7 linked regions of the Homo sapiens genome follow. The gene in region 6 interacts genetically with the main gene of each other region. Each region holds a gene or a part of one and is shown on either strand. Other genes may lie near its edges. The genes, in order: NDUFA8, ASCC3, REXO2, TIMELESS, MED9, GFI1B and TIPIN.

The links.
Region 1: changes in GFI1B (region 6) and NDUFA8 together harm fitness more than expected from each alone (negative genetic interaction), as found in Homo sapiens cells (one large-scale study listed by BioGRID).
Region 2: changes in GFI1B (region 6) and ASCC3 together harm fitness more than expected from each alone (negative genetic interaction), as found in Homo sapiens cells (one large-scale study listed by BioGRID).
Region 3: changes in GFI1B (region 6) and REXO2 together harm fitness more than expected from each alone (negative genetic interaction), as found in Homo sapiens cells (one large-scale study listed by BioGRID).
Region 4: changes in GFI1B (region 6) and TIMELESS together harm fitness more than expected from each alone (negative genetic interaction), as found in Homo sapiens cells (one large-scale study listed by BioGRID).
Region 5: changes in GFI1B (region 6) and MED9 together harm fitness more than expected from each alone (negative genetic interaction), as found in Homo sapiens cells (one large-scale study listed by BioGRID).
Region 7: changes in GFI1B (region 6) and TIPIN together harm fitness more than expected from each alone (negative genetic interaction), as found in Homo sapiens cells (one large-scale study listed by BioGRID).

What each region holds. Positions count from the first base shown.
Region 1 is NC_000009.12:122,153,280-122,156,779, forward strand, and holds part of NDUFA8 (NADH dehydrogenase [ubiquinone] 1 alpha subcomplex subunit 8), read right to left. Parts: intron 1-3,500. UniProt on the Homo sapiens protein: Accessory subunit of the mitochondrial membrane respiratory chain NADH dehydrogenase (Complex I), that is believed not to be involved in catalysis. Complex I functions in the transfer of electrons from NADH to the respiratory chain.
Region 2 is NC_000006.12:100,846,830-100,850,329, forward strand, and holds part of ASCC3 (activating signal cointegrator 1 complex subunit 3), read right to left. Parts: intron 1,879-3,500; coding exon 1,319-1,878; intron 1-1,318. UniProt on the Homo sapiens protein: ATPase involved both in DNA repair and rescue of stalled ribosomes. 3'-5' DNA helicase involved in repair of alkylated DNA: promotes DNA unwinding to generate single-stranded substrate needed for ALKBH3, enabling ALKBH3 to process alkylated N3-methylcytosine (3mC) within double-stranded regions.
Region 3 is NC_000011.10:114,438,006-114,442,266, reverse strand, and holds the start of REXO2 (oligoribonuclease, mitochondrial precursor), read right to left. Parts: upstream 2,801-4,261; 5' UTR 2,739-2,800; coding exon 2,592-2,738; intron 1,612-2,591; coding exon 1,528-1,611; intron 1-1,527. UniProt on the Homo sapiens protein: 3'-to-5'exoribonuclease that preferentially degrades DNA and RNA oligonucleotides composed of only two nucleotides. Binds and degrades longer oligonucleotides with a lower affinity.
Region 4 is NC_000012.12:56,425,427-56,428,926, forward strand, and holds part of TIMELESS (protein timeless homolog), read right to left. Parts: coding exon 3,457-3,500; intron 3,227-3,456; coding exon 3,123-3,226; intron 2,980-3,122; coding exon 2,810-2,979; intron 1-2,809. UniProt on the Homo sapiens protein: Plays an important role in the control of DNA replication, maintenance of replication fork stability, maintenance of genome stability throughout normal DNA replication, DNA repair and in the regulation of the circadian clock.
Region 5 is NC_000017.11:17,487,000-17,490,360, reverse strand, and holds part of MED9 (mediator of RNA polymerase II transcription subunit 9), read right to left. Parts: intron 1-3,361.
Region 6 is NC_000009.12:132,988,694-132,992,187, reverse strand, and holds the end of GFI1B (zinc finger protein Gfi-1b), read right to left. Parts: intron 3,128-3,494; coding exon 2,990-3,127; intron 2,513-2,989; coding exon of another isoform or gene 2,447-2,512; coding exon 2,281-2,446; intron 1,451-2,280; coding exon of another isoform or gene 1,431-1,450; exon of another isoform or gene 1,349-1,430; intron 1,317-1,348; coding exon 1,138-1,316; 3' UTR 501-1,137; downstream 1-500. UniProt on the Homo sapiens protein: Essential proto-oncogenic transcriptional regulator necessary for development and differentiation of erythroid and megakaryocytic lineages.
Region 7 is NC_000015.10:66,353,886-66,358,026, reverse strand, and holds the start of TIPIN (TIMELESS-interacting protein), read left to right. Parts: upstream 1-1,341; 5' UTR 1,342-1,388; exon of another isoform or gene 1,389-1,884; intron 1,885-3,905; exon of another isoform or gene 3,906-4,029; intron 4,030-4,141.

The sequences.
Region 1 (3,500 bases), about 11 Mb from region 6:
ATTAAATTAAATTAAATTAAATTAAAGGATAAATAAAACTCCCAGAGGACTACGGAGTCACAGAAGATGAGGCTGGAAGAGATCACAAAGAGCATCTAGTCCATCTAGTAATAGTCCATCTAGTAATAGTCCATCTAGTAATAACTAATAATAAAGTACTAAAATCTGCAAATTTTTTAAAAATCAGAGCGTATCCAAGGTTGCCACCCCTTTAACTATGCCCACCAGTTTTGCTCAATAGTATTTTAGTGATATTTTCTTGAGAAGATACACAGTGTAGATATAGCCAGCTCAGAGAGAACTGCAAACTGTCCAGGGCCTACAAACAGCTGCTTAAGCAAGAGACCTGTGGTCCCTTTTCTGTACTACCTTTTCTTATACCAATACCACAATGTTTTAATTACTGTCACTGAAGATAACATTTTGTTATCTGGGAGAACCATCCTCCTCATTCTTCCTTTTCAAAACTTTTTTGGCTATTCTTTCAGATGAACACCTTCCCCCAATAATTTGCATTCAAATTGTATTAAATTTAGTTATATGTTAAATTAGGGAACAATGGGCAGTTTTTATAATACTGGGTGCCTGCTCAAACTTCACATCCTCAGAGAGCCTCTCTCTAATCATCTTATATAAGCTATCATCAGTGGTCACTCATGTGGTCTGGTCTTAGCATTCATGTGCTAAGTCTGATCAATTCTAGACATACTTGTTCTTTCCTCTCTGTAAGCACAGTTTCTGTGTTAAGCACCAATTACACTGGGGTCATTAACATCTTTCTCAATAATTTTAAGAGCCCCTGAGTGGTCTGTGTGTGACTAGAACATAAGCTCCCAGAGGGAAGGGATTTTGTTTTCAACAGAGATCCACTACTGTAAAGATATCAATTCTCCCCAAATTAAGCTATGGTAATTAAATATAATGTTGACTACGGTACACACCAAGCACCCAAAATAGTGTCTAGCACAAGTAGCTGTTGAGCACCCACTCTTTGCTAGAAAATGGGGATACAATAATTAGAAAACAGATATGAATACATCAATCACACCTTCTCATCCACAACACAGTATTTCTCTCCATTTATTCATATTCAAGTCATTCTTGTCCTTTGGTTAAAACTAGTTTCCTTCATTATAGGGACCTTGAACATTTCTTGTTTATTCCTCAGTATTTTAGCACTTTTGATACTATCTAAATAGGATAGTTTTTCTATTAGACTTTCAAACTGTTTACTGCTTGCTTGTATACTGTATTTTCTCTCCAGCCATCTTACTGAACTCTTGTTAGTTCTGACACAAAACTCAAGAAGATTAACAGAAAAACTGCCATTTACAAATAAAAACTGTCTCTTTCCCTTCTGCTACTTTATTTTTTTCTTCTTATTCTCATTTCCTATTTTATTGCTTTAACCAACCCCTTCAGGACAATACAGACGAAGAGCAATGACAGCAGACAACCTTCCCTTTTTCTAAAATTAAAAGCAAGTTTGGTATAATATTTGCTGTTGGTATCTGGAATATAGTTGTTTGGATATTCCTTGTTAAGAAAGCTTCTTTCTAATTCTAATTAGTTTTGCTTTACTGTTGTTTTCTATACCAGAAAAGACTAAAATTTTTAGGCTTCGTTTTCATTAATTTATAAATGTAACATAGAGCATTAACAGATTTTGTAAAACTGATCCAATGTATTTCTAGAATAAAATCTAGTCTGTCACAGTGTATTATGCTTTAATACTCTACTGAATTTGATTTGTAAAATTAAAAATTGTTGTGTGAGAACAGTCTGTAATTTTATTTTATTTTATTATTATTATTTTTTTGAGACCGAGTTTCGCTCTTGTCCAGGCTGGAGGGCAGTGGCGCAATCTCGGCTCACCGCAACCTCTGCCTCCCAGGTTCAAGTGATTCTCCTGCCTCAGCCTTCCTGAGTAGCTGGGATTACAGGCATGCGCCACCACACCCGGCTAATTTTGTATTTTTGGTAGAGACGGGGTTCCTCCATGTTGGTCAGGCTGGTCTCAAACTCCTGACCTCAGATGATCCTCCCGCCTCAGCCTCCCAAAGTGCTGGGATTATAGGCGTGGGCCACCACGCCCAGCTGTAATTTTATTTTTTATGCACTTTATGCAGCTAGGTTATTAATAAAAGGCAAGGAAAGATGACAAGAGTAATTAATCTATACACTATAGAAAGGAGAATAAAGTTATGACTATGTCTATTAATAGTGCAACTGTTATAATTATCAAAGATAAAGTTATGACATAAGTGAAATCTGCCATGATGACTCTAATAAATTTATGTTTAAAATCTGTAAAGTTTTCATATTAAAGTTTTTGAAAATAAAAGAATTTATTTAGGTAAACTGGCACACATTTGCTTGTTTTATTACCTATAAACAGCTAGGAGAATAAAAACTAACACTCAAACTTTTTTAAAAGCTTAATATATTTTAATAATTAAGTCAGTTATATTTACTTGTCATATGCCTTAAAAGAGCTTTAACTGGCTGATTCAATTATTCAAAGGCCCAAAACTATACGGCCCAAAAAGACTGACGCATTATTTATTTCCCTACAAATGTGGAAATCTTATCAAAATGAAGGTATACACATGTTGCTGAGCATATAAAACACCATCCCTGTCACAGGAAAATAAAGGAAGACATTGAGTCTGTTTCGTAATTAATGAAAAAGAGGGATGTGCTAGAGACAACACAGTGAGTCAGTGGCAACCCCAGAACTAGAACACAGAGATTGTGACCTCCAACCAGGCTTCTTCCCATTATATCACCATCACTGAGGTGGATGAGCCTGAGATGTCACCATATCCCCTCACCTGCTTCTTCACTGAGACTGATGAATTCCAACAGAAACAACATCCTTTCACAGCTGTTTACCATGAATACCGTCTCAAATTCATTCAGATCTCTTTGTCTCAAACAACACAGAATTTCAACATCCTTCTCATTTATTCTCACAACAGCCTCATTGCACAGCAGGGCTACACAGTCTGCAGGTGTGGAAACTGAGACAAAGTCACCATCTAGAGCCAATCAACCTTCTAGTCCTGTCCTTGTCTCCTTAAACTACGTCTGTACCTCTTTTTATAGTACTTTATTTATACCATGCCTTGAGTTTTCCTAAATTTATGTAAAACAGAGAATAGTACTTAATAGAACTGTTATGAAGATTAAATGAGTTAATATATATAAAAATAATAAGAACAGTGCCTATCACATCGAAAGCACACCATAAATATTAGCTATTTTTATTTTTACTCAAAATTATCAAATGTGTCCAAGGACTTTCCAGTCCAAAGCTTCTGACTGCTTTTTCAATGGGGATGTGTCATAACTCCTAAGCCAATGAGGTCCAAAATGTATTTAACTCGCTCTCCAAACGGGCTCCTTTTTCTGGCTTCACCAGTACTATTGCCACGCTGCAAATCTGACTTTGATTCTTCAACCTTCCCTACCTCCAATATCTAATCCATTGCTAAGTC
Region 2 (3,500 bases), on a different chromosome or scaffold from region 6:
TTCTTTGCATGTAGTATTATAATACCTATGATATTTCAGTACAGTTACTTGTTGACATGTCTCCTCCTGCTAGACAATTAATTCTGAGAACAAGTTTGCTATCTTATTCATCCTTTTATGTTCAGTAAATAGCACTGTACCTAGCAATACAATAAGCATACAATAAATATATGACAAATGAAGCTATTATGAAAAAAATCTAGCACAAATACTCCCCTTCCAACAATCAGATTCAGTTACATACTTTAAAATTGTGGTGAAAGACTAAGAAATACAAACTTACTATAGATATTCAGAAGTGAAAGTAATGGTTTTATGGCTTACTAAGAAAATAAAATATCCATTAATTAGATATTTATAAATTTCAGTTTATTATAATCATAATTGGATAACTACTATGTATTCAATTATGATGAGCAAATATTAGTAAAATTTTCTTCGTAAATCACAATTTTTAAAACAATATTATGTTCAGAATGTTAGAGAAAATTTAATAGTGAGAACAGATCTGATAAAAATTAAACCAAGTGTAAAACATTCACAGTAAAAAGACTGATCACAGAATTAATGATATAATATCTTACTTCCAAACTAATGTTAGTTGGCATAACACCTATGGGTTAAGTCCTCCAATACCTACTTAGCTAATTCTCTAAATTAATTTTTCTCTGAAAAATACAGCTAGTATTTTTTCTGTATTTCCAATACTCAATGTGATTTAAAAATTCTTAATTCCAATAATAACGACAAAAATAATCACAGCTACCACATAATGATTATTTAACATGTTACTTACCATTTTGCATATATCACATTCAATCCTTATAACAATTATCTATCTTGATATTGGTGTCTCCTTGAGATAGCCCAACAAGAAAACTGAGCTTCTGAGAGATTAAGTTACCTAAAGTGTCACAACCAGTAAGTGGAAAGGGAAGAACAAACTGATTTCAAAGCCTGTCCTTTCTACAACAGTAGGCCATCCCTCTTAATCTTTCATGAAATATATTACTCATTCAATTTGTCCAGTATTAAAATTAAGTTGACATCAAACCAGCACTGTCCCAGTAACCAGAGCATGTGGACACCCAACTATTGTCTGCTTACTCCTCTGCTACACTCATTACACTTTCAGACCTCCTGTAACTATCCATTAGGAACGTATATACAGGCCTGCTATGTGAAACCATTTGGCTATAGATTCAACTACTATACAGAACATTAAAGAACTTTCTTTGCTAACCACCCATGTTTAAAAAACACTATTTCATTAGGATAGTTCACATTAATATAAAAAAATAAATCATTTCAACTATACCTCATCCTGAAGTTCATCACCACTTTTAATAGAAGCAAGCATATCATATAAAGTACAGCAAAGATCTTCTACTCTTGGCACTTCAGTCATTTCCTTCAAAGTTGAATTTAGGTACTTTTCAACTTCACACCACAAAAAGGAGCCATTTGTTTTTTCCACAGGCTTGAGTTCTGGGGTGCAAGCCTCCTGGAGATGTTCATTCAGAAACTTCTTATAATCTAGGCTTATAGTTTTCTGAGTTTCACCATTTATTGGCAGTTCGTCAAAGTGGTCCAAATCATGCATGTCAAATGAAAATGCTAAATTTTTACCAAAAAAAACCCTATCGCCATGTTCTTTTTCTGTCATCTGCACAAGAGCAGTAAGATCATCTTGACTAAAATGAGAAATAATTCGATTAGTAGCATTACAAGCTGCAGTGGCAGATGATGAAGGAAAGGGGCCAAACATCTGTTTGATAGCCTTTGTTTCCTTGTGACCAACAGAGTCCTTCAAGTGAAATGTCATGAAGAGAAATGCAGCCCCACTTTCAATTGCTTCTCTCCCATTATCAGTTCCAACTATTCAAAGACAAAAGAAACAGTATTAGCTCAATTGAATCATGGTTCAAGTTACGATCTTCCAAAAAATTACCACAAATATTCTCCTGAGTAAATCTAACAGTCAAATCATAGCAATAGACCAGGTGTAATGGCTCCATATAATCCCCACACTCTGGAAGGTCAAGGCAGGAAGATCACTTGAGTCTAGGAGTTCAAGACCAGCCTGGGCAATATGGTGAGAACCATCTCTACAAAAATTTTTAAAAATTAGCCAGGTATGGTGGTGTGCACCTGTAGTCCCAGCTACTCAGGAGGCTGAGGTGGAAGGATTGCTTGAGCCTGGAAGGTTGGGGCTGCAGCGAGCCATGATTGTGTCACTGTACTCAGCCTGGGCAACAGTGTGAGACCTTGTAAAAAAAACAACAAAAACATAACAATAAAGACAGATAGCCAATTTAAGGAGCAGGAACCAACCCATTCCTGAAGAACTATTTATTTCCCAAAGAACTATTTTAGGTAAATAAATCATTATCAGTAATTATTATGTATCTAAGTGCAGAAACTACCTAGTAACAATCCTTACAGCTTCTTTCTAAAAACAACTTGAGACACTAGCTAAAACTCACTTTAAAACTAATTTTAAAGATTGATTTGATGAGCTAGTTAAATAAACCAAAGTAAGGTACAGAAAACAATCTGAATTATAGACTTTTGGAGCTTCAAGGAAACCTCAAATATCTATAATTTTCTTTCCAATTTGTACCATAAACCTGAGATGGCAAGAAATACTTCTATAGTTCTCATTCAAAAACATTTAATACCATCAAGGATATTTATTAAGCTGAAGATAAAGTTAGTCATATTATAAAATAAAAAAGAAAGCTCCTGTTTAAAAGAGGCTAGAAGTAAATATAAGAAGAATCAGCCTCTAATTTATTTAAGGCATTTTCTCATATCCAATTTTCTCAAATAAAAAAAAGAATCTGTATTTCTGACATGGGTTTCAAAGAATATTCTTAGAGAAGAAAAGAAGAATTTAAATCTTCAAAAGGCCCCAAAAGCTATGTGACTTACCTAAATACTGTTAAAGTTAATAATGTAATGAATACTGGTATCTTTCTAAAAAACATGACTCTGCAGTTGCTCCCGCCTGTAATCCCAGCACTTTGGGAGGCCGAGGTGGGTGGATCACCTGAGGTCAGCAGTTCGAGAACAGCCTGGCCAACATGGTGAAATCCCGTCTTTACTAAAAATACAAAAATTAGCTGGGTGTGGTGCCACACACCTGTAATCCCAGCTACTCGAGAGGCTGAGGCAGGAGGACCGCTTGAACCTAGGAGGCGGAGGTTGCAGTGAGCAGAGATAGCATCGCTGTACTCCAGCCTGGGTGACAGAATTGAGACTCTATCAAAAAAAAAAAAAAAAAAAAAAGAAGGAAACATGACTCCAGTATCATTATTCACAAATCTTCCACAGCTTACTATAGCTTGATCCAAGCTCCTACACTGCCAGAAGCTGACCCCAGCATTTTATTTTCCAGTCTTATTGGCTATTATATATTTCCTGCTCCAGCCAAAAAGAATTTCTTCACCAAAAACCACGTTCTACCCCACTCTATGCCTATTTCTATATCATACTGA
Region 3 (4,261 bases), on a different chromosome or scaffold from region 6:
AGTAGGATGCCTGCTCTTCTACCAGCATAAAACATTTTTCTCAGACTCTTATAAAAGAATAAAACATACTGCAGAACTGATAGCCCCTAAGCTTTTTTTTTTTTTTTAACATCTTTATCCTCATCTGACTTAGTCCATTTACAAATGCTGCATTCATCTGCAGCTGTGTGAATACATACCCAAATTTCCTCCAGGGTACATATCAACCTACGGGTCCATTAAACTGTCAGTATTTCACATTATATCAACAGTCTAAAGGAAACACTCTTCTTCGGCCAAGGGTAAGTTAGACTGGTAAAATAAAGACACTTCTCTTCACTATTGATCTCCAATAAATCCCAAGTAACAGAAAAAAACAACCAAATCTAAAACTCAGGGCTTTATTTATACAAAGTTAAAAAAGTTGTTATGATGAGAAGTACAAAGTCTCATGATTCTCCTACAGTTGATATGTGGGGAGGATAAGCCTGGTACTCCACAAACGCAGTCATTAATCTAGAAATACGTCCTCACCTCTTTTACCTACACAGCAAAACAAACAAAAGTGTTAACTGCAGATTTACGAAATGTATCCAGTGCCAGTAACATATCAATGCTACCCTCTAGGAACTTATTTTAACAAGACTCTCTTTTCCACAAACATCCCTACTTTGTTCCTATTCTGGAGTTTCTGGCTCTGAATACTGCTGACAGTATAAAACAGAATTATTCAGGGTCAGGGATTTCACCCCCTACCAGATGGTGTCACATCCTTATTAAATGTTTCATGAGTGGCTGAAATGCAGCAGGTGTGTTTTGTTTTGCTAAATGTTTCAGTTGGAAGTAGCATGCAAAAACCTTAATCATGCCCAATCTGTCAACAACAGAACACTTTACGGGTGTGCACTAACAGAAATTCTAAAATCTTAATACTGATCTAGAAGAATCACATGTCCTAGTTGAAAAGGCAGAATTGTAAATATGGAGTCAAGTTAAAGTCAAGGTTATGATATAAAGACGCAAACATTGGCACGAGTCACCAAATCTGATGGGAGGACAGCTGGCTGTCCTACTTGTTAGGAGCACCTTACTGAGACAGCCTGAGTTAAACTCTTGGCTCCCCCAGTAAACAGCCACTGGGACCTCAGACAAATTACCCAACATCTCTATGCTCAAGTGTCCTCATCCATCAAATGAGCATTATAACAATAACTAACTTATAGTTGCTGTGAGAACTAAGAACAAAGACATATAAAGCACACAGAAACTGTAGCTGGCATACAGTAAGCGCTCAGTAAACGACAGAATTTATGTTTCTGTAAATTTCTGGCATGGTTAATTAAAAAATAATGTTTAATTTTTAATTTTCACTAGGCTGTGAGATGGATTACTTTGGTTCTAGTACCACCCCTACCATGACCTAGCACATTACCTTAACCCATATAGACCTCAACTTTCTTATTTTTTAAATAAAGAAGCTGGAAAAAATGATGGTTATATTTCCAGTGCCCTTTAAAAAGTATGACTGTATTACATGGCATCACGTACTTCAGCCAAAATGTTGAGATCAGAGTCAGTTATCAGACAGGCCATCTCAATAATCTGGTCCTTCTCAATGTCCAATCCTGTCATCTGCAATTAAAAATAAATATATAACACACACAAAGCCATCATTCTGGCCTCTTTTACCCAAGTTTATTTAACAGGAATTCCCTCAAACATAGTCAGCTTGTAATCCATAGCCGAAACAGAAGAGAAAGAATGCTCCTCGGGCAACTACTGAAGGTACTAAACACGAGTCCTCGTTTATTCAACAAACATTTACCAAGGGCCTGCTATTTGTCAAGCACTGAGATTCTACTCCGGGACAGATGCAAAGTAAGTAAAACTGAGTGCTGACATCACTCAGTTTTGGAAGAGTTGGATAACTACCACCACCACGTCTCTGCAGAGTTTACAAAGTTTTCACATTAATTACACCACTGGACCTTCACAATCTAATGGAAAAACTACTGTTATTATCCTCACTTCATATAAACTGAGGCTCAACGGTGGGAGGAGCCCTTGTTTCGGGCATGGAAAGCCTGAAGGGATAGGAACTGGGTTCTGGTCTCAACTCAGACTCTCACTAACAGCACGACCTTGAATGAGTTGAATCCTTTCTGTGGGCCTCAATGTTCTCACTTATGGAATGAGGGGTAAGGCTGAGTCATCTCCGGAGTCCCGTCTGGCCCTAACAACCTAGGGTCCTTTAAGGATTTAGTTGGGGGAAGCTGGGAACAGAGCCGCTGCCCCCGCCCCCACTCCAGTGACCCAAGCCCAGAGACGCCAGAGCGTTAGGAAAAGTCCACATCTGGGCGGAGGGGTAGGGAGGAGAAGAAGCCACACGGAGGACTCCTCCCTTGTGGAAAGAAGCCCTACAGCGCAGCACGGCGCCCAACACCCGCAGGACTCCTGCCTCCGGACTTGCCCTGCACCGCCCGTGGCCGGCCGCGCTCACCTGCCACACCTGAGACCCAGACCCCCAACGCTCTCCCAGGACGGGCTCGACTCCTCGGTTCCACGAGCGAAACCTCACTCGCCTCCCCAAGCCCCCCGCCGACCTCACTCACCTCCAGGTCCACCCAGACCATCCGCTGAGCCATGCTCTCCCCTGCCGCCATGGCTGCGCCACCTTCGCGGACACCTCGGGCCCCGAACCGTCCGTGACTCCCACCTACACCCCGCAACAGCCTGGAGCCCAGGGAGCCGCCTAGCATCACCCGGGACCAGCAGCCACGGCCCCAGTCTCGCAGCCGGCGCTGGCGCAGGCGCAATAGTCGCTAAACGTCGCAAACCCACGGGGAGGCGCACGAGCTGAAACCACACGTCCCAGCGTACGGTGCGCCGGCTCGCCCTCAACAGCCTGGCTTGGCTGCCGAAGGGAATGATGGGACTTAGAGTCTCACCTGCGGTTGCGACCAGATGCCCCACCCCCGCCACGTGTTTTTCTGGTGTTACTGGACGCGCTTGTTTTTCACTGCTAAGTTTGTTTGCTTCCAGGAGTTATTTCCTGAGTTTTGGTTAGTTGTAACCGCGCAGTTAAAAAAGAACTCTTACTTTGGTTGGTTGGAAAAGAGCTGATTATCTCTGTATGACATTTTTTTCATGTATATCTTTCCTTCTTTGCATTTCTTTTTCTTTTTTTACTTACCTGCCCCTCTATTCCACAAACTGGATATTTTCCTCATTTATTTGGGACCAAGAGGCAGTGTGCTTTTGGGGGCCAGAAGGCCATTAACATTATCATCAAATCATTTAGAAATATTTAAATAAGATCTTGTCTGAGAAATCATTTAGCACGTATCAGGTGTTCAGTCAAAGTTAGTTACCTTCCTTCTTTTTCTTATGGGAAAGCGGTCCAGATCCAGACCCAAAGAGTGGGTTCTTGGACCTCCTGCAAGAAAGAATTCAGGGCGAGTCCATAAAGTGAAAGCAAGTTTATTAAAAGTAAAGAAATAAAAGAATGCCTACTCCATAGGCAGAGCAGGGGCATGGGCGACCGAGTATACTTACACTTATTTCTTGATTATATGCTAAACAAGGGGTGGACAATACCGGGAACTGAGGGTTCTCCGCTTTTAGATCATATAGGGTAACTTCCTAAGGTTGCCATGGCATCTGTGAACTGTCATGGCGCTGGTAGGAGTGTCGTTTAGCATGCTAATGTATTGTAATTACTGTATAATGAGTAGTGAAAATGACTAGAGGTCACTTTGTCATCTTGGTTTTAGTGGGATTTGGCCAGCTTCTTTACAGCACCCTGTTTTGTCAGCAAAGTCTATTGTGACCCGTATCTTATGCTGACTTCCTATCCCTTCCTGGCACTTAGAATACCTAACCTCCTAGGAATGCAGCCCAGTAGGTCTCGGTGTTATTTTACCCAGCCCCTATTCAAGATAGGGTTACTCTTCAAATGCCTCTGACAATTTGGCCAAGGATTATCCCTTATTTCTTATGAAATGCGGCCTGCATTTCAGTTCACCTATTAGGTGTCTGCATGATGACAACTTGCTACTCTGTTCTTAAAAGTTCTCAAAGTTAAATTTCGTCCTCCTATAACAAATCTATGCAGCAAACTAACTTAAAATGAACTAAAACAGTTCTGCCTGCTCTGCCATCTTCTTGGGCTTTGATCCAGGTGTCTTTAATCTCCTGCAATGACTGCTATAATGTCTATCATTTCTAGGAGTCCAGGTGGCCAGCATCAGGACCTTTAGGCCCTGGAGTGTCAAATTTTGTG
Region 4 (3,500 bases), on a different chromosome or scaffold from region 6:
TGACCCATTTCCTGAGTTCAGAGGTTTGCCAAAAGCAGTGCTATCTCAAGAGGTCTACAGAATAAGCAGATGCTATGAGGATCAAATAAGACACATGGAAAAGCTTCATAAAATGCAAAGCACTATGTAAATAAAGCCTCTAATTTTTTCTCCTGAAAAGTAGGACAGCCAGGCGCAGTGGCTCACACCTGTAGTCCCAACACTTTGGGAAGCCTAGGCAGGTGGATCGCTTGAGGTCAGGAGTTCAAGACCAGCCTGGGCAACACAGCGAGACCCTGTGTCTACAAAAAATACAAAAATTAGCCAGGCATGGTGGTGTGTACCTGTAGTCCCAGCTACTTGGGAGGCCGAGGCAGAAGAATCGCTTGGGCACGGGAAGGAGAGGTTGCAGTGAGCTGAGATTCAGCCACTGCACTCCAGCTTAGGTAACAGAGCGAGACCCTGCTTAAAAAAATAAATAAATAAATAAATAATTAAAAAAAAGAAAAGCAGGAGAGTGAGTCAATACCCAAATCCTGCTTCTCCCAAGTCAGGGCTGTGAACCAGTCTTTGGTGTGGGTACTGAAAAGTCAAACAGGATGAACTGAGAGGCCCCTGAAGGTCATGCTCCATTAAAGAACTTACAATCAAACACACCAAAACTTAGGAGCATGGAGTCCAGCAGATCTGGATTTGAGTATTGAATTAGTATTACTAACAAGACTTTGGACAAGTTGCTTAACCACTTTGGGCACATGCGCTACTGTGAGGATTACATGAAAACGTCAGCACAGTGTCTGACACACAGTAAATGCTCAATAAATGATAGTACCTAGTATTACAGATAATACCACAGAGCTCTGAGTGCAAAAATACCCTTTAGCAAAGTCTCGTTGGTACTACTGCATCTTTCAAGTCCAGTTATGACAGAATTTTAAGCTGTAGCAACTAGAGTTATAGGAAGGTTCTGGTACAAAATCTTTTTTTTTTTTTTTTTTAAGACAGAATTTCACTCTTGTTGCCCAGGCTGGAGTGCAATGGCGTGATCTCGGCTCACTGCAACCTCTGCCACCTGGGTTCAAGCGATTCTCCTGCCTCAGCCTCCCAAGTACCTGGGATTACAGGTGTGTGCCACCACGCCAGGCTAATTTTTGTTTGTTTGTTTGTTTTTTGAGACGGAGTCTTGCTCTGTTGCCCAGGCTGGAGTGCAATGGCATGATCTTGGCTCACTGCAACCTCCGCCTCCCGGGTTCAAGTGATTCTCCCACTTCAGCCTCCCAAGAAGCTGGGATTACAGGTGCGCATGACCATGCCTGGCTAATTTTTGTATTTTTAGTAGAGACAGGGTTTCACCATGTTGGCCAGGCTGGTCGTGAACTCCTGACCTCAAGTGATCTGCCCGCCTCAGCCTCCCAAAGTGCTGGGATTACAGGCATGAGCCACCGCGCCTGGCCCAAAATCTGTTTATACAAAGCAAAGTCTCTGTGTTTCCAGGATACAAATTCCTTGGAGTTTGCATTTTGTCCCAGGGTTTTTTTTATTTTAATGTGAACCAATAATTTTATTTTTCAGAGATAGGGTCTTGGTCTCACCCAGACTGGAGTGCAATGTCTCAATCACAGCTCACTGCATCCTCAAACTCCTAAGTTCCAGTGATCCTCGTGCTTCAGCCTCCTGAGCAGCTGGGACTACAGGTATGTGCCACCATGCTGGTGAATTGTTTTTGTTTTTTGTTGAGACAGAGTCTTGCTCTGTGGCCCAGACTGGAGTGCAGTGGCATGATCTTGGCCTACTGCAACCTCTGCCTCATGGGTTCAAGCAATTCTCGTGCCTCAGCTTCCCAAATAGCTGGGACTACAGGTGCGTGCCATCACACCCAGCTAATTTTTGTATTTTTAGTAGAGAAGGAGTTTTGTCATGTTGCCCAGGCTGGTCTCAAACTCCTGGCCTCAAATGATCCACCCACTGTGGCCTCCCAAAGTGCTGGGATTACAGGCATGAGCCACTGTGCCCAGCCTGTCCTAGGCTTTTCACTGATTCCACTTTGGGTTCATGGACAACTGTCACAATCCCAACTTTATGGATCTGGAGACCGACACGACCAGCTTGAGCTTATTCCAATAATAACCAATACAGGACTAGATTCCAGACTTTCTAAAGTTCAATTTAAGGCTCTCTTTGTGTTGCTGTTGAGACAGAGTCTCACTGTGTCACCCAGTCTGGAGTGCAGTGACATGATCTTGGCTCACTGCAATCTCCACCTCCTGGATTCAAGCGATTCTGTCTCAGCCTTCTGAGTAGCTGGGATTACAGGTGTGCATCAACACGCCTGGCTAATTTTTGTATTTTTAGTAGAGACGGGGTTTCACCATGTTGGCCAGGCTGGTCTTGAACCCCTGACCTCAAGTAATCTGCCCACCTTGGCCTCCTCAAGCGCGGGGATTACAGGTGTGCGCCACCATGCCTGGCCGCAATTTAAGGCTCTTTCCACCTCACCACAATGCTTTCAAGGTATAACCAGAAAATGCTATAGCATAATTATTAGACTCTAAAATTATGAATCCCCAGGGTTTTTGTACTTGGCATGTGGTAGGTGTTCAATAAATGTTTCCTGACTGAACTAAAATATTTATGGCAGATCAGAGATTATTCTAATGGGAGAAGGAAACTGTAGTAGACTCACACTGGCCAACACCCACAAACCTCTTGCTGTCGTAGTTCAGAGCACGTTTAACAGATGAACTTAAGCTGTACAAACTGTGAGAAGAAAGAGCCCCCCTTCCTTGACTCTCCCTTACAGCTCTTTCTACATTGTGGGGCTGCCCAGTACCTGCACCACCAGGTTCCCACGGCTCCGACAGAATCGCTCCAACATTTTGAGGAAGAGGTGGGTGGTCTCCACCAGGTCACGAAGGAAAGAGCGGGGCTGGCATCTCTCATCAAACTTTCGAAAAAGTGCCAGGAATAGTTCTCGGTACTCCATCACATAGAAAATATTGTCTAGGAATGGGGAAGAGAAAGGGATGGAAGGGCTATTCTGGAAAGCTTGAAAAGGAGAGATGGATGAAGCTGGGACTGGGAAGAATGAGATTCTCATCACGAGATGGGACAGGCTGGGATCGGGGACCAGGCCAGGGCCTCACTCTTGATGATGCGGCTGCTCTCCCTCACAGCCTCATCTGGAGATATGTCCATCTCATTCACTGTTGCCAGCAGCTCCTGATAGGCCTTCAGAGCCAAGTGCATCCTGAGAGTTGACGGGAAACGGTGAAATGGAGGACAGCTTAGGGCAATGGCCCATGGAAACAGCAACTTCCCACAGCGAAAAAAAAAAATGTGCCACCCAAACTAAATTTCCCAGCCAGTCCTTGCTCCCCAGACTGATCACCTGAACCCTGAATCAGGAAAAAAGCACCAGCCAGAATTCAAGCATTCAGATCCCTAGCTCACTGTATCTCCAGTAACCATCCCACTCACCGGCGTGCCCAGGAGGCAGCTTCCTTGCGGTCAGTCAGCATCAT
Region 5 (3,361 bases), on a different chromosome or scaffold from region 6:
CGGTTCAAGCAATTCTCCTGCCTCAGCCTCCTGAGTAGCTGGGATTACAGGCGCATGCCAACACGCCCGGATAATTTTTGTATTTTTAGTAGAGACAGGGTTTCACCATGTTGGCCAGGCTGGTCTTGAACTCCTGACCTCAGGTGATCCACCTGCCTCGGCCTCCCAAAGTGCTGGGATTACAGGCATGAGCCACCACACTCAGCTTCCTATACGTTTTTTAAAAGTTAGTAAGTGGATGAGCTTTTGAAAACAAGTGGTTGAGACCAAAACTAAAAGGCAATTCAGTAAGCTGTTCTGAAAGTAAGCCATTGAGGCATAAGAGGGAAAAACTGTCAATGATCATTAATTTTTTCAAATAAATGTTCATCCGTAGTGGGAAATTTCAACCCAGATGGTGCTAATTCATGTTTACTATTCATCATTTCTCTGCTTACGCAGGCAGAATATCCATCTTTCCTGGCGATCCATCAGTTACGTCTCACACCTTGCAAATCAGATGGCCACCATGGCCAGCTCAGTATTTACCAACAGCTCTAAACTCAGAGGGAGGGTATGGAGAATCAATCACTTCTTCCAGGAAATGAGAGGCCAGGAAATGATGCCCTCAACTGAGAGACACCATTAACAGTATACCTTATCGCAGATTCTAGAGAGGATGAACTGGTATTCATGAGAACTAAAAATCCTTTGGAAGGAAGCAAATAGGGAACGTCTTTTATTTTAATTCTTTGAAGTCTCAGCTCTGATCCACAAATGTGGACAGAAACCATCTGCACTTCTGAAATCCTTCTACTCGGATGGCATGCGTGTTAACATACCGTTACGAATTTAAGTCCCAAGGAAGTTTTAAAATTAAAATATAGTTTTTAAAAAAACCGACTCACATGAGTCTCAAAGGACATGGTAAAACAAACAAAAAAGTACTTAAAATAGAAATGTGGATGACAGATAATCCCATTCTTGAAGCAAACATAACCTGGCCCAAAAGAAAATTTAGTTCTGAAAGTTGAAAGTGGGTCATGTTTAAGATGCTCATCTCTGAAAACCCCCAAATAGCAAGGGTTGCGTGTTCTTTGGTGAACTTTCAGGAAAGGAGACAGTCTTCAGATAATAAAAAAGGAGCTGTAAGACAAGCCGCCTGGAGGGCAGCTGAGCCAAAAGGGGCCATGCAGCCCACAGGGAGGCCCCTCTGCAAGCCCAACTGCCCTAGTTGGTGGAGGTAAATAGCATGGAACTCCTGGAGTGAAGAGAACATGCTATTCAGAAGTGGGCATCTGCTAAGCCAGGATGACTGTGAAATATTCAAGCCAAAAGAAAAGGGACAGGACCAAATACCGAGTGAATAAAAGCAGAAAGCTCTAAGTGGGCCTACCTTTGTGTTCAAGGTTAGTCATCGGCCAACTATAGAAGGAATGAAAAAAGCCACTAGGTCAAGGAGGATGAACATCGTACAAACAAGGCAAGGTCAGAGCACTTTGGTCCCAACTACTGTGGTACTGTGGTTTCTTTTTTTCTTTTTTTTTTTTGAGACAGAGTTTTACTCGTTGCCCAGGCTGGAGTGCAATGGTGCGATCTTGGCTCACTGCAACCTCCGCCTCCCGGGTTCAAGTGATTCTCCTGCCTCGGCCTCCTGAGTAGCTGGGATTACAGGCATGCGCTACCACGCCCGGCTAATTTTGTATTTTTAGTAGAGATGGTGTTTCTCCACGTTGGCCAGGCTGGTCTCGAACTCCCGACCTCAGGTGATCCGCCCACCTCAACCTCCCAAAGTGCTGGGATTACAGGCGTAAGCCACCGCACCCAGCCCCCTACTATGGTTTTTTTAAAGAGTGGACAAAAATACTACCGCCAGGGGTGATCCTCTGAGCATCCTTCCCACGTCTGACAGACAGTTGTATCCGTGTCACCAGACTCAAAGGCAAACATCACAGGGTTTTAGGCAGGTGTCTGAGAATCATGCCCTGATTTTCTTTGTTCTTCTTTTTAGCATGGATGCTTTAGTACAGATGCAAACTGGCCAATAACTCTGCTAGAACCACTGACACAGACTTCCTCCCAAATCTGACAGTCATTTCTTTTGACCTTTTGGTGGCATCTGACTCAGTTTCCCATTTCTTCTTCCTCACAACTTCCATGCACTGTGCCTCACACTCCACTCTGTCCCAGCTGCCTTGCCCTCAGACCAGCCCTTACCAGTCCATTCCTCTGCCCACAGGCTCTCCTCGCACGGTACTAACTCCAGTGGCTTTCATTTTTCTAAGATCACTTTTTTAAAAAATGACAGTAATAGGTACTTGAGGGAAAAAATTCAAAAATGAGACAACCAAGGCTTAGAAAAGGGAAATCTCATTAACCCCTTGTTCCAGAGATAACCTCTGCTAACATGTGGTGTCCACTGTTTCAGATGGCTTTGAAATGTACAACAGCATACAAAACACACAAACTTTTCTTATTTGTTCTGACAGAAATGTGACCATCCATAGTTCTCATTCTTGCTTTTTCTACTTAACAAGGCACCTCAGATGTCCTTCCATGTTAACACATATACAATTAGACAGCGAAATTACCCTGGCTATTCATGGGTGGTTGTACTGTACTAGAATGACAGTGAACATCTTGTACTTATACCCTTATGTACTTGTGTGTCCGGAATTGGTGGGTTCTTGGTCTCACTGACTTCAAGAATGAGGCCACGGACCCTCACAGTGAGTGTTACAGCTCTTAAGGTGGCGCGTCTGAAGTCTGTCCCTTCTGATGTTCAGATGTGTTCGGAGTTTCTTCCTTCTGGTGGGTTCGTGGTCTCGCTGGCTCAGGAGGGAAGCTGCAGACCTTCGCGGTGTGCGTTACAGCTCTTAAGGCAGCATGTCTGGAGTTGTTCGTTCCTCCCGGTGGGCTCGTGGTCTCGCTGGGCTCAGGAGTGAAGCTGCAGATCTTCGCGGTGAGTGTTACAGCTCATAAAAGCAGCGTGGACCCAAAGAGTGAGCAGTGGCAAGATTTATTGCAAAGAGTGAAAGAACAAAGCTTCCACAGCATGGAAGGGGACCCAAGCGGGTTGCCACTGCTGGCTCCGGCAGCCTGCTTTTATTCTCTTATCTGGCCCCACCCACATCCTGCTGATTGGTAGAGCCGAGTGGCCTGTTTTGTCACGGCGCTGATTGGTGCATTTACAATCCCTGAGCTAGATACAAAGGTTCTCCCCGTCCCCATCAGATTAGTTAGATACAGTTTGGACACACAGGTTCTCCAAGGCCCCACCAGAGCAGCTAGATACAGAGTGTCGATTGGTGCATTCACAAACCTTGAGCTAAACACAGGGTGCTGATTGGTGTGTTTACAAACCTTGAGCTAGATACAGAGT
Region 6 (3,494 bases):
AGAGATCCAAGTTATGTGCTTTGAAGGCAGAGGAAGGGGCCAAGATCAGAGGCACAGACGGCCTTGGGAAGGTGAGAGACAGGAAAACAGACTCTCCTGGGAGCCTGCTGCAGGAATGCAGTCCTGCTAACACCTTGATGTTAGCCCCATGAGACTCATTTTGAGTTTCTGGCCTCTAGAATTTAAGAGAATAAATGTGTGTTGTTTTAAGCCACTAAGTTTGTGGTCATTTGTCACAGCAGCCACAGGAAACGGATACCGCCCCAGCTGCACTAGCCTTGCCCACCCCTGTGGTCTTGTCGCACGGGCCCCTTCTGCTTGCTCCTGGCTCGTCAGCGGGTCTGTGCACGTGGGGGCTGAGTACACTTCTCCACAACTTGCCTATGAGCACCTCCATGGCTTTCTCTGCTCCTCAAGCCTCCCCGCATCACTCCCCAAAGCCTCGTGCAGTACCCTGGACCTCATAGGCACTTAATAAATGCTGGTCACATGGCAGCAAATCTGTATCTTTAATTTTATTGACAGCAGTTGAGAGAACAGGCTTTTGACAGCAATAACTGCCAGTTTCTCCAGCCTCACGGCCTGGTTGTGGAGCTAGAATCCCCAGAGGCCAGCTGAGTGCTGGTCGGAAGTCGGAGTCAGCCAGCACATCTGGCCGAAGCAGAGGGGGTGCCAGGCTTCTGACTGGGGTGGGAGGCAGCTCCGACTCTGCCTGTTATAGCCAGAAAGAGGCCGGCTAAAATCCAAGGTGACCAGGTCCCAGCTCAGTGGGCAGCAGGCAGGTGGAGGTTCTGTCTGTGGGTCCCAGCTCTGGTCTACTCTTGGCATCCCTGTCTCCCTGGGGGTATTCTAGCTTTCTGTGCTCTGCTAGAGGAAGGCACTTGAGCACACCTGGAAACAACTTCTGCTGAGAAAGACCCAGCCAGGCTCCCACACTTGGCAGCAGGAGAAATGTTGATCCAGACAGGGTAAGTGACTTGCCCAAGGTCACACAGCAATTTCATGAGTCTCAAAACAAGCTGGTAGACTCCTGTCCAGTCCCACCTCCAGGAGACTGGAGATTTGGGCATGTGAGGCTGGCCTCCAGGTGACAGGACCGCAGGGCAGGCTGGCCAGGAGCTGGGAGCCGGCGCAGCCTCACTTGAGATTGTGCTGGCTCTCGCGGTGCCGCCGCAGGTCCACCTTGCGCTGGAAGCCTTTGGTGCACAGCTCACAGCTGAAGGGCTTGAAGCCTGTGTGCTTGCGGCTGTGGGTGATGAGGTTGGAGCTCTGGCTGAAGGCCTTTCCGCACACCTGGCACTTGTGCGGCTTCTCACCTGCAGGGAGGGCAGCGCAGCACAGCAAGGGCGGGGTCAGGGCCTCCTCACCAGGCCTGCTGCTCCCCTGCCCTGCCCCCGGGTTCATTTTCCAATACCTTCCTGTGTTTTCTCTCATGGCCAACTCACATTCACTTTAGAAAATAATTAGAAAAGAGAGAGAAGCAAAGATACAACTTGGACCCTCCTCCACCCCTACTGGATTATAGGGTGGTTAGGGGCAGCTGCCGAGTCATCTTGTTTATCAATACATCTCCAAGCCTGGTATACCTGGCACAAAAGAGGCACTCAGCTAATAGCAAGGAGGCAATGAATAAGCAAGTGAATGAATGAGTGAAGGAATGAATAAGCAAATGAATGAGTGAACAAATGAATGAGCAAATGAGTGAGCGAATGTGTGAATAAATGAGCAAATGAGTGAATGAGTGAACAAATGAATCAACAAATGAATGAATGAGTGAACAAATGAATGAGCAAATGAGTGAACAAATGAATGAATGAGTGAACAAATGAATGAGCAAATGAGTGAACAAATGAATGAATGACTGAACAAATGAATGAGCAAATGAATGAGTGAACAAATGAATGAGCAAATGAATGAATGAGTGAACAAATGAATGAGCAAATGAGTGAGCGAATGTGTGAATAAATGAGCAAATGAGTGAACAAATGAATGAGCAAGTGAGTGAGTGAATGAGTGAACAAATGAATGAGCAGTTCGCCTGCTAGTCTCATGTCTGCCATGAGATCAACAGTGTTGAGATTTTGCTGTTTCCTCCCTGTATTTTTTTCCATGCATTAAGTGCACTTAAGTAGCACAGGTGCCCAGCCCTCCATCAGCAGTGGCCTTTGACTTTGTAACTAGACCCCGCCCCCAGCCTCACGCTGGGGGCCTCTGATGCATCTCTCAGGGAAAGGTGGGGGTGCTCTGCCCAGGGGGCACAGGCAGGTGAGACTCACTCACCTGTGTGGATGTAGGTGTGCTTCTTCATGTCGGACTTCTGGTGGAAACGCTTGCCGCAGAACTGGCAGGGGTAGGGCCGCGTGTCTGAGTGGATGAGCAGGTGGGTGGACAGCGTGGACGAGCGCTTGAAGGCCTTGCCGCACATGCGGCACTCGAAGCTGCGCTCCTGCCGGAGGAAATGAGGCCCCGGGGGGTCAGGTGCAGGCTCAGGACTGGACCCGGCCGGGATCCCCTGCGGAACAGGACACTCCATTGGGGCGGCCTGGAGGAGCAGGACCGGGGGACCCCTCATCTCTGCCTCTGAGGTGAAACTGGGGCTTGGAGTCTCATTGGTCTCCTGTGGGATTTTTCCTTGTAATCTTCACGGTATCCCGCTCAAAATAAACCTCAATAAATGTTCGTTGATTGACTGATGGACTGACTGATCTCAGAGGTTCTTTAGGGGTTCACATTTCATGACCATTAACCTAGAGTGAGTTCCTTGAGGCAGGGATGGTTGTGGTCTGCACGGTGGTTTAGTTAAGAGTCTGAAGTTTGTTAAGGGCAGGTGTTGGAGACCCAGACCCAGGGAGGTGGGTACTAGGGGACCCCTCCCAATCTGTGTCACCCCCAGGGGCAGGGGGAGGGACCCAGCCACAGCCCCCAGGCTCCCTGGGGAAGCACAGAGAAGGAGTGGGGCTGGGAGTCCTGCGCTGGGCCAGGTGCCCACCTGGGAGTGGACGTGCGTGTGCTGCTCCAGGCTCACAGCGTGGCCGAAGGTTTTGCCGCAGATGTCACAGGCGAAGGGCCGGGTCCCACTATGGGAGCGTCGCACATGCACTTCGAGCCCGTGAGGGGTGGAGAAGACCTGGGAGCAGGGGCAGCATGTGAGGCCACTGGGGGCTGCGGTGACAGGGACAGGCCTGGGGTCCCATGGTCTCTTCCATGCCCAGCTCTGGCCAAGGCTGGGTACACAGAGTAAGGGGCACTGGATTGCCAGTTCTGCTGCTTGCTTGCTGTGTGTCCCAGGGAGGTCCGTTTGCCTCTCTGTGGCTCAGTCTCCCTTCTACAAAGTTGGATGTGAGAGAGGGGATCTGGAGGCCCCTCCTTGCCTCATCTAGAGGCTGAATAGCCCAGTGGTTAAGAGCTGGGAGTTGGCCGAAGCTGGGTTTGAATGCTGGTTCTGATATCTACTTGCTGTCTGATCCTGGAAAAGTGACTTAACCTCTCTGAAC
Region 7 (4,141 bases), on a different chromosome or scaffold from region 6:
GTCAGCCTCTCAAAGTGCTAAGATTACAGGCATGAGCCACCAAGTCTGACCAAATAACTTTTTTTTTTTTTGAGACAGAGTCTTGCTCCGTCGCCCAGGCCGGAGTGCAATGGCATGATCTCAGCTCACTGCAACCTCTGCCTCCCAGGTTCAAGTGATACTCCTGCCTCAGCCTCCTAAGTAGCTGGAATTACAGGTGCGCGCCACCACGCCCGGCTAATTTTTGTATTTTTAGTAGAGATGGGGTTTCACCACGTTGGCTAGGCTGGTCTCGAATTCCTGACCTCGTGATCTGCCCGCCTCGGCCTCCCAAAGTGCTGGGATTACAGGCGTGAGCCACTGCACCCGGCCCCAAGTAACATATTTTTGACATTTTTTTTTGTTTACATTCACACTCTCTCGCTTTTTTTTTTTTTTTTTTTTTTTTTTTTGCGACAAGATCTCACTGTCACCCAGACTGGATCTCCAGCTGGATCGCCAGCAGTGCGATCCTAGTCACTGCCGCCTTCAACTTCTGGGCTCAAGCCATTCGCCTGCCTGGGCCTCCCAAAGTGCTGGGATTACAGGCGAGCCACACCGCACCTGGCCAGTGTCTATGTTCAGCCCTATTTTTCCTCTCTTTACCACCTCTTTTCTCAGCTTATTATTCAATAAACAATTCATAAAACTCTGAGTTCGAAGCATTCTGCTATGAACTCTGAAGAAGCGGTAATTTCTTATTCACTATTGCTTGCCTCTGTCCTTTTTCCTCCTCCCACAACTCAGTTTTCCAAAAACCGAGACCTATTTCCAAGGTTTAAAGTGCCGGGCACAGTGGCTCACGCCTGTAATCCCAGCACTTTGGGAAGCTGAGGTGGGAAGATCGCTTGAGCTAAGGAGTTCGACACCAGCCTGGGCAACTAATCCCCGTCTTTGCAAAACAAACAAACAAACAAACAAAAACCCATTAAAACAAAAATTCGGTGTGGTGGTGTTAGTCGGGGAAGGGAGGCTGAGGTGGGAGGATCGTTTCAGCCCGGGAGGTAGAGACTGTAGTCAGCCGAGATCGAATCACTGCTCTCCAGCCTGAGTGATAGAGCGAGACTTAGTCTCAAGAAAAAAAAAAAAGAAAAACCCCAGAATAACAAGTATTAACTTTATGCAAATAAGGAGGCTTAACTGAGTTCCTCTGAAGAATTCAGTAGGGCGGAAATTGTGGGACCGAAGGCGGGACCGGCGTGCTGGGCGGAACCTGAGAGGCGGGTTTTGCAGGCTCCGCCCAGCCCCCCGCACGGATTTGGCGCCAAACGCTGCGGGCCCTTCTCGCCCCAGGAGTTCCCGAGTATCGCGAGAAGCGCGCTTAGTCTGCACGCCGAGGTCCGCGCTGTGTCCCGTGTTTTCTGCGTGAGGTGAGAGCTGGCTGGCGGGCCAATGAAGTTCTTGCGGGGAGAGGGGAGTCGGACTAGCCAGGGAGCCAGATGGAAGAGCCAGGGAGCCAGACAGACTAGCGGGAAAGCCTAATTGTCGCAGGAAGGGGGTCAGGAGGTTGGGGGGTCGACCTGACCCGGCCTGGAGAGGCGGGGAGGTGGGCGCGTGTCCCGGTTGCTTAGGTTTTGGGATGCCTCTTACTCTGCCAAGCCGCTTAGCGGGAGGGAACGTGTTCCTGATCATCTTTACCCCAGGCTTCTGTCCGGGGCGTGTCAATGTAGAAATCCCCCAGCGAATGTTGGATGAATGAATGAAGTTGAAGAGAGGGTAGGCGGGGAACGAGGATGAGGGGGACGGCTGGAGAAGAGGTATGGGAGGTTCGATGTTTCAGGGATGGCACCCAAGGGGGACATCGAGGCAGCACGGTAGCACTTCCTTTGCGATGAGGGGCGTCTCTTTGGACTTCTTGGAAAAGAGGTGGGCATTGGAAACCAGGGTCTGGGAACAAACCGTGGTTTGGACATAACATTTGTTACCTTCACTCTTCTGGGAGTTGGAGAAGTAGAGGAGGAAGTTCAGACAATTTCATAAGTGTCTAAAAAGAGACAGTTATGCGACCATTGACGAGGAGTAAAAGTCGTCTATTGAGCATCTTATTCACTACAAATAGAAGAAAGAAATACCAGTTTCCTGACAAGCCCCACCCCATGCTTGGCCAGTTCCTGAGTACACTTAATATATTTTAGGTACTGTCATCAAACTCAAAGCTCGCTGTCAGCCTCAAAGGTCTGAACCCTAGTATAGATTCTTGTAGCTTGCTTGAAGTTACAGTGGGTCATGATCAGGAATTGATGCTTTGTTTTTGTTTTGAAACGGAGTCTCGCTCTTTCGCTCAGGCTGGAGTGCAGTGGCGCGGTCTCGGCTCACTGCAAGCTCCGCCTCCTGGGTTCAAATGATTCTCCTGCCTCAGCCTCCCGAGTAGCTGGGACTACAGGCGTGTGCCACCACGCCCCGCTAATTTTTTTTGTATTTTTAGTAGAGATGGGGTTTCACTGTGTTGGCCAGGCTGGTCTCGAACTCCTGACCTCATGATCCGTCCGCCTCTGCCTCCCATAGTGCTGGGATTACCGGCGTGAGCCACCGCGCCCAGCCGATGCTTTGCTTTTATATTTATGGTAACCGAAATTTAGAATTAGTGAGATTTTAAAGATCGTCTAACTCCAATTTGGGGAAACTGGAATTTTTTTTTGCATTCCATCATTCATCAAATATATATTGAGCACCTGGGGCCGGGCGCGATGGCTCACGCCTGTAATCCCAGCATTTTAGGAGGCCGAGGCGGGCGGATCACGAGGTCAGGAGATCGAGACCATCCTGGCTAACACGGTGAAACACCGTCTCTATGAAAAATACAAAAAATTAGCCGGGCGTGGTGGCAGGCGCCTGTAGTCCCAGCTATTCGGGAGGCTGAGGCAGGAGAATGGCGAGAACCCGGGAGGCGGAGCTTGCAGTGAGCAGAGATCGCGCCACTGCACTCCAGCCTGGGTGACAGAGCCCGAGACTCCTTCTCAAAAAAAAAAAAAAAAAAAAAAGATATATATTGAGCACTTGCTGTGTAACAGCATTGGGGTTCCAGCTGTGTAACACAGAGAGACTTAACCTCGTTGCCCTTTTTGAGCTACAGTCTAGTTTGGGAGACGAACAATAAATAACTGTATAAATAAAACCTGATATTGAAACTGGATAAGTGCCATGACACTTGTACTTGACACTATGAATGCTTACTAAAGAAGGATTTAGAGAAATTGAGGTAAACTTTTGAAAAGGTGATAGTTGAGATCTGGAAGATATTAGGAGTCAAGGAATAGCTTTTTCAAGACAGGAAATAGTATTTGTAAAGAGCCAGTGGCCTGAGGGATATAGCTCTTTCAAGGAAAGAAAAAGCATAGAGTAGTGTGAAGTGAGACTGGTGAGGTAGTAAGAGGCTGGATCACACAGGGCCTTGAAGTTTTGTCTTTATCTTAAGAGCAATCAGAAACCATTGAAATACTTAATCCAAGTGAGGTGATCAGCTTTATATTTTCAGATTCAGTCTAGATGTAATAGGGACAATTGAAGGAGACGAGTGGATGAGAGTAGTGGAGTAATGCAAGCAAGAAATGTTGGGAAGTGGTTATAGAGATAAGGAGAAATAGACAGATTCAAGGGATATTTAGGAAATAAGATGGGCAGGATCTGTGGGATAGGGGAAGGAATTGCTAAAGATGACTTGTAGGTTTCTGAATTGCATAGCTGGATAGATGTCATTTAATGAGTTAGGAAAATTTAGAAGTTTGGTTTTGTACCTGCTGAGTTACAGGTGCCTTTCAGGCGTTTAGGAAGTGTAAAATGGGAAGTAGTGATCTGGATCGCAGAGTCAAGGCCTAGGGTAGAGATAAAAATCAGGGAGTCATCTATAAATCAGTACTTATTAAAGCTCTGTGCATAAATGAATGAAGAAGCCCTAGGATGGAGTCTTGGATACTTAATGGCCGGGGTAGAAGATAAACCTGCAAAGAAAATCCAGGAGGAGTGCCCAGAAAGGGAGGAAAGCCTCAGCCTCCTGAGTAGCTGGGACTACAGGTGCGTGCCACAACACCTGGCTAAATTTTTTTTATATTTTTAGTAGAGACGGGGTTTCACTGTGTTGGCCAGGCTGGTCTCGAACTCCTGACCTCATGGTCCGTCTGCCTCT